2 separate regions of the Homo sapiens genome follow, and region 1 is reported to be linked to region 2. The links are microRNA targets in miRTarBase. Many come from high-throughput screens and were not tested one by one. Region 2 holds a microRNA gene; the other region holds the end of a gene's coding sequence.
Evidence for each region. Region 2 holds the annotated microRNA hsa-miR-628-5p (AUGCUGACAUAUUUACUAGAGG, at 1,003-1,024, opposite strand). A microRNA usually pairs through its seed, bases 2 to 8, with sites in the 3' UTR of a target mRNA and lowers its output. Matches are read on the target gene's strand: a 7mer-m8 pairs with bases 2 to 8, a 7mer-A1 pairs with bases 2 to 7 and ends in A, and an 8mer does both.

Region 1: the mRNA of SEMA3D is a reported target of hsa-miR-628-5p. Seed matches in the 3' UTR shown: 7mer-A1 at 3,471-3,477.

Annotation. Positions count from the first base shown.
Region 1 is chr7:84,996,602-85,000,137 of GRCh38, reverse strand. It overlaps SEMA3D (semaphorin 3D), which reads left to right. Exons shown (of 19, transcript NM_001384900.1): 19 at 273-3,536. The coding sequence ends at 698. Among named protein-coding and RNA genes, the nearest start is that of SEMA3D, 190 kb to the left of the region's middle. RefSeq lists an enhancer at 1-691.
Region 2 is chr15:55,371,989-55,374,988 of GRCh38, forward strand. MIR628 (microRNA 628) reads right to left here and starts at 1,046; the gene lies at 952-1,046. CCPG1 (cell cycle progression 1) reads right to left here. Exons shown (of 9, transcript NM_001204450.2): 6 at 1-56. It overlaps DNAAF4-CCPG1 (DNAAF4-CCPG1 readthrough (NMD candidate)), which reads right to left. Exons shown (of 16, transcript NR_037923.1): 13 at 1-56.

The sequences.
Region 1 (3,536 bases), not on the chromosome of region 2:
GAGAGAAAAAAAATAACTGCATTCCAAAGGTTCAGTTAGACTTACTAAGATTCAAATGTGAAAAATTAAGGATATAGTTTGGGGGCTATTACTTTTGTTGAATTTTTTTACTCTTTTTAACTATGGCTGACAATATTATGCTTGATGACAGAGACAGAGAGACAATGAATATGTCTTTCATATTCATCTAAGTAAAACTATGTAGCCTGTTTTCATTTGCTCTTAGCTCTCTCTGTGTTTAATTTATTACCTACATTTTTCCAATTCTGCAGTTGAAGCCCGATGAAAGAATCATCAAAACGGAATATGGGCTACTGATTCGAAGTTTGCAGAAGAAGGATTCTGGGATGTATTACTGCAAAGCCCAGGAGCACACTTTCATCCACACCATAGTGAAGCTGACTTTGAATGTCATTGAGAATGAACAGATGGAAAATACCCAGAGGGCAGAGCATGAGGAGGGGAAGGTCAAGGATCTATTGGCTGAGTCACGGTTGAGATACAAAGACTACATCCAAATCCTTAGCAGCCCAAACTTCAGCCTCGACCAGTACTGCGAACAGATGTGGCACAGGGAGAAGCGGAGACAGAGAAACAAGGGGGGCCCAAAGTGGAAGCACATGCAGGAAATGAAGAAGAAACGAAATCGAAGACATCACAGAGACCTGGATGAGCTCCCTAGAGCTGTAGCCACGTAGTTTTCTACTTAATTTAAAGAAAAGAATTCCTTACCTATAAAAACATTGCCTTCTGTTTTGTATATCCCTTATAGTAATTCATAAATGCTTCCCATGGAGTTTTGCTAAGGCACAAGACAATAATCTGAATAAGACAATATGTGATGAATATAAGAAAGGGCAAAAAATTCATTTGAACCAGTTTTCCAAGAACAAATCTTGCACAAGCAAAGTATAAGAATTATCCTAAAAATAGGGGGTTTACAGTTGTAAATGTTTTATGTTTTGAGTTTTGGAATTTATTGTCATGTAAATAGTTGAGCTAAGCAAGCCCCGAATTTGATAGTGTATAAGGTGCTTTATTCCCTCGAATGTCCATTAAGCATGGAATTTACCATGCAGTTGTGCTATGTTCTTATGAACAGATATATCATTCCTATTGAGAACCAGCTACCTTGTGGTAGGGAATAAGAGGTCAGACACAAATTAAGACAACTCCCATTATCAACAGGAACTTTCTCAGTGAGCCATTCACTCCTGGAGAATGGTATAGGAATTTGGAGAGGTGCATTATTTCTTTCTGGCCACTGGGGTTAAATTTAGTGTACTACAACATTGATTTACTGAAGGGCACTAATGTTTCCCCCAGGATTTCTATTGACTAGTCAGGAGTAACAGGTTCACAGAGAGAAGTTGGTGCTTAGTTATGTGTTTTTTAGAGTATATACTAAGCTCTACAGGGACAGAATGCTTAATAAATACTTTAATAAGATATGGGAAAATATTTTAATAAAACAAGGAAAACATAATGATGTATAATGCATCCTGATGGGAAGGCATGCAGATGGGATTTGTTAGAAGACAGAAGGAAAGACAGCCATAAATTCTGGCTTTGGGGAAAACTCATATCCCCATGAAAAGGAAGAACAATCACAAATAAAGTGAGAGTAATGTAATGGAGCTCTTTTCACTAGGGTATAAGTAGCTGCCAATTTGTAATTCATCTGTTAAAAAAAATCTAGATTATAACAAACTGCTAGCAAAATCTGAGGAAACATAAATTCTTCTGAAGAATCATAGGAAGAGTAGACATTTTATTTATAACCAATGATATTTCAGTATATATTTTCTCTCTTTTAAAAAATATTTATCATACTCTGTATATTATTTCTTTTTACTGCCTTTATTCTCTCCTGTATATTGGATTTTGTGATTATATTTGAGTGAATAGGAGAAAACAATATATAACACACAGAGAATTAAGAAAATGACATTTCTGGGGAGTGGGGATATATATTTGTTGAATAACAGAACGAGTGTAAAATTTTAACAACGGAAAGGGTTAAATTAACTCTTTGACATCTTCACTCAACCTTTTCTCATTGCTGAGTTAATCTGTTGTAATTGTAGTATTGTTTTTGTAATTTAACAATAAATAAGCCTGCTACATGTAAAAAGAACCAAACTCACAATATTAACATAAACATCTTTCATATTTTGTTAGTACTTTCAAATGTTTTCAATTTGACTTTCCCTCTGAATATGCATGGTGTGTTTCCTGTCTGTTTAAGCAGAACTCACCTTTCCTTCTTGTAACACAGAACCCTTAGCCTTCTTCTGTTTTGCCTTTTCACGCCCTTTATAGTGTGAAATGAAAAATTAGTCACTTCCTCACATGGAAGGCAGCTTTTCAGAAAATAACAGACATTGCTCGTTTCTCATGCATTCTACATATCTTGAAAGAAAAGTCTGTGAGAAAACCCTGTGATTAGAGGGCAACTTAATGCAAGATCTGTGGCTCTATGTTGAGAGCATTCTCTCTCTGTTATTTTTATTTTATTTGCATTGCTTACCTATCTCAAAGTAGTCAAACTGATATATGAGATTGAGTACTCCCTTTTGATATTATACTGATGAATATTTGTAGGTGTTTCACTATAAGGAACAGCTAAGGAATAATTTTAATAAAAGTGAACCAGAACAAATCACTCATTTAAAAAGTAATTCAGAAGAACAGTGTGGCATGATCAGACTTCTAATTGAATAGCGTAACAACAGTGTTTGTAATTATAGATTTGCTTGGACAAAATATTCCAGGAACTCATAGCGAGCTCAAAGCAATTAAGTGGGAACATTTTTAATTTAAAAAAAATTTCCAAATATTTGTGGGTCCGACAGTAATGATCAAAATATGAATGACTTTGGAAAATTTACATGAAGCTCAAGTGTTAGGATTGACTTATGAAAATAAATTTTATTTCTATCCAAATTTGAATGTCCAAACCATTTTTTAGTTACTTCTTTCTAATCCTAGTTATTCAGACAAAATTTGGAAACTTATTTTATGACCACATCTAATATTCTGGCTGCTTTGGATACAATACTCTTGATTTATGATAATTAGTTAAAATATATTAAAAATATTATTAGTAAAATAAAATTTCACACAATAAAAAACAACATAGAGTACACATATTTATATGTATTTTTAAAGATAAAGAATATCTAAAATGTGTTTTTTTCTTAGCTTTTTAGTTGTCTAGAACATTTAGAGAAAGAGTATGAATATATTAAATCCACAAACACACTATATACTTCCTCACCACTGACTATTTTATCAAATTTGCCTTAAAATAATGAAAAAGAAAAGTATAGTTAATGGTTTCAAATATGCTAAGAAATTGACTCTGCGGAGGGGATCTTAAAATGCCTGTTTACTCATGTTTTCGTATTTTTCTTGTCTCTAATACTTTTGTCTTTGTCTGCCTTGTGTGTTCTTTTCTGAATTTCATTTCAGCAATTTATGCTGCTAAATAGAATCCCGCATGTCTGCATTCATTTACATTCAACTTATTGTAA
Region 2 (3,000 bases):
CTGATTACTGGTTTCATCACTACTTGATTCATCGTCACTAGGCTGAGATGAAAATACTATTAAGAAAAAAGTTGACATTTAGCTATTCAAAATCTTGGAAAAGCTTTCCCAGTAAAAATTATTTAGAATAATCAATGCCATCCCTTACATGCCTTTCTACATAAGATAGCCAAAAACAAAAACCAAACAACATAAACAAAAACACGGGTTTTCAACTCATCAACATAAAGCCAAAACATAAAGCATTTCAAATGTGATACACAAGAATCTGTTAATCATACTATTTGGTGCTTTGAGAGCCTATCTCTGTTTTTTTATTTAATCCTCCTCGCCTTATAGTTTACACTCTTAGAACAATCCTTCATTCGCATAGCCTCAAGTTTCATTGCTGGCCAGGAGCAGTGGCTCACGCCTGTAATCCCAGCACTTTGGGAGGCCGAGGCGGGCAGATCACCTGAGGTCAGGAGTTCGAGATCAGCCTGGCCAACATGGCGAAACCCCTTCTCTACTAAAAATACAAAAATTAGCCGGGCATGGTAGTGCACCTATAGTCCCAGCTACTTGGGAGGCTGAGGCAGGAGAATCACTTGAACCTGGGAGGTGGAGGTTGCAGTGAGCTGAGATCCTGCCACTATACTCCAGACTGGGAGACAGAGCAAAACTCTGTCTCAAAAGAAACAAAATTTCATTGCTATTACAGGTATAAACAAGTATTATTTCTGGAAAGAAAAAAAATACTCTCTGTCTCTTCATTCAGTTTCAAAGAGGTAATTTAAGTGCAACTATTTAAGGAACACAGGAAAGTACACAAGCATTTCCTGTGACTTATAAAGTAAAATAACTACCAAAAGTTTCCTTGGGTGTATCTGGTCTCTAGTTTCATTTCCAACCTAATTAGCCCATGATCAAGGTTCAAAGCACTGTATTTTAACATAGGTTTCCAGAAGTCAGATGAGCCCTTCCCTTCGACTGCCACTCTTACTAGAAGGTTATTAATTTTACCCTCTAGTAAATATGTCAGCATGAGGAAGTGACACAACAGCTATCTCCGATATTAAGGACTATTCTGGTGCTGCTCCTTTATGAAAATAATAGTAGAGAAAAACAAACTAGTGGGGAAAATTTGCACAAGAAATCCCAAGTCCAGGAAACAAATTCCCTGGAAAAAATCACCTTCAGTTTTTTCCAAATGCATAATTTCTTAACACTGTTTCTTATGTCAACAAACTATTATGTTGACACAGAAGCTTCAATTACTCAGAAATAATTTCCACAAGCTACTTAGAGGAAAAGCACTAAAAATAAGGATAAAATATGAACTCGAATACAAAGAGCTCTAAAACAACAAACATTCATGCTCCAGAAAAGCAAAAACAGTTCTTCAGAAGACAGGATATCCATGCCACAGGAAAGCTGGTGATTTAGGTTAGGCAATATTTTTCAGAGATGGATCATGGAGTATTCAGTTCACTTTCACACTTACAACAATAAACACAAAGACAGAAGGCACTACTGAAATGAATGAATATTCCTAATATTTAGTGATACAGATGCCACTGAGAGATCTTTTTGGTCATGACCCTTATGCCCATCATGTTTATCTGGTTATTCTTGATCACTAGTTTTTCAAAGATGCCGTCGCCTCAGGTGTGAGATTATATTTCTTGGACAAAGAGAAAGAAAGGAAGACTTAAACAAAGCATTACATAATACAAAGGCATTCATGATCATGGTTAGAGTATTTAAGTCAGGCTTTCTGACATAAAATTAAGATAGGTAAATGTAAAAACAAACCATTTGTAAAACTTATTTAAATAATTGTTCAATTCTACATTAACATTACCTTCATTATATATTCTAACAAAACAGCCTAACCCACATTAATATATTCATGTCCTTATCTAATGCTTCCAACTTTTTTAACCCATACATATAATAGCTGAAATATTTTGATTTTTAACTTCTTTTAAAAAAGCTTAATTTGGCCCATAGATGCAAGCAATGCAAAGGCATGCAATAAGCTTGGCCAGCTCCTTTACAAGAGATTCTGAACACCTGTTTAGAGTATTGCGGATGACAACAGGTATCTTTAAAGCACTCGGTAAATAGTAAATGTGACTAGGCACACTCAGCTCTAGAGAAGCTGGTCAGATTTAGTCACACCACCTTGGAAAGCGAGTTGGCTAGGAACATGGTGTTTCAGCTGATCATCCCATCCCCATATGCACTCAGGAATCTTCCACAGCTTCTCCCACCACCTTTCTTTTGTGAATAAACAGGAAAAAAAGAGGCATAAAGCTATATTATAAAGACTAAAAAGAAAAAAAAGAATTAAAAATACTTAATTATCACTTAACATTGTTATCCGTACAAAATTAAAACGTAATAACCATGCCTTCTTAAAAACACACAATACAAACTTCTCTACACTACCAACTTTGCTTTTTGTCAGGGAAGAGAGTTCATAAAGAGGAAGCAGGCAGTGTTCTTAACCCAACAAAACGTACACTGCCACAAGAATATAAGTCAGGAGAAGAAAAAATTGAAGTTGAAATCCTTAAGGATGAAGAAAGGGAAAGGAAAAAACAAAATTAAGCAATGGCTAGCACAAAATTAACAAACTAAAAGGGAAAAACAAAAACCATCTTTTTTATTTTTTTGAGACGGGGTCTCCCTCTATTGCCCAGGCTGGAGTGCAGTGGCGCAATCTTGGCTCACTGCAACCTCCGCCTCCTGGGTTCAAGAGATTCTCCTGCCTCAGCCTCCAGAGTAGCTGGGATTACAGGCCTGCGCTACCACAGGCAGCTAATCCCAAGTAGCTGGGATTACAGGCACCTGGCTAAATTTTGTATTTTCAGTAGAGAAGGGTTTTTGCCGTGTTGGTCAGGCTGGTCTCAAACTCCTTACCTCAGGTAATCTGCCTGCCTCAGTCTCCCAAAGTGCAGGGATTACAGGCATGAGCCAAAGTGCCCGGCCCCAAAACAAAAACTTTTGGCAACT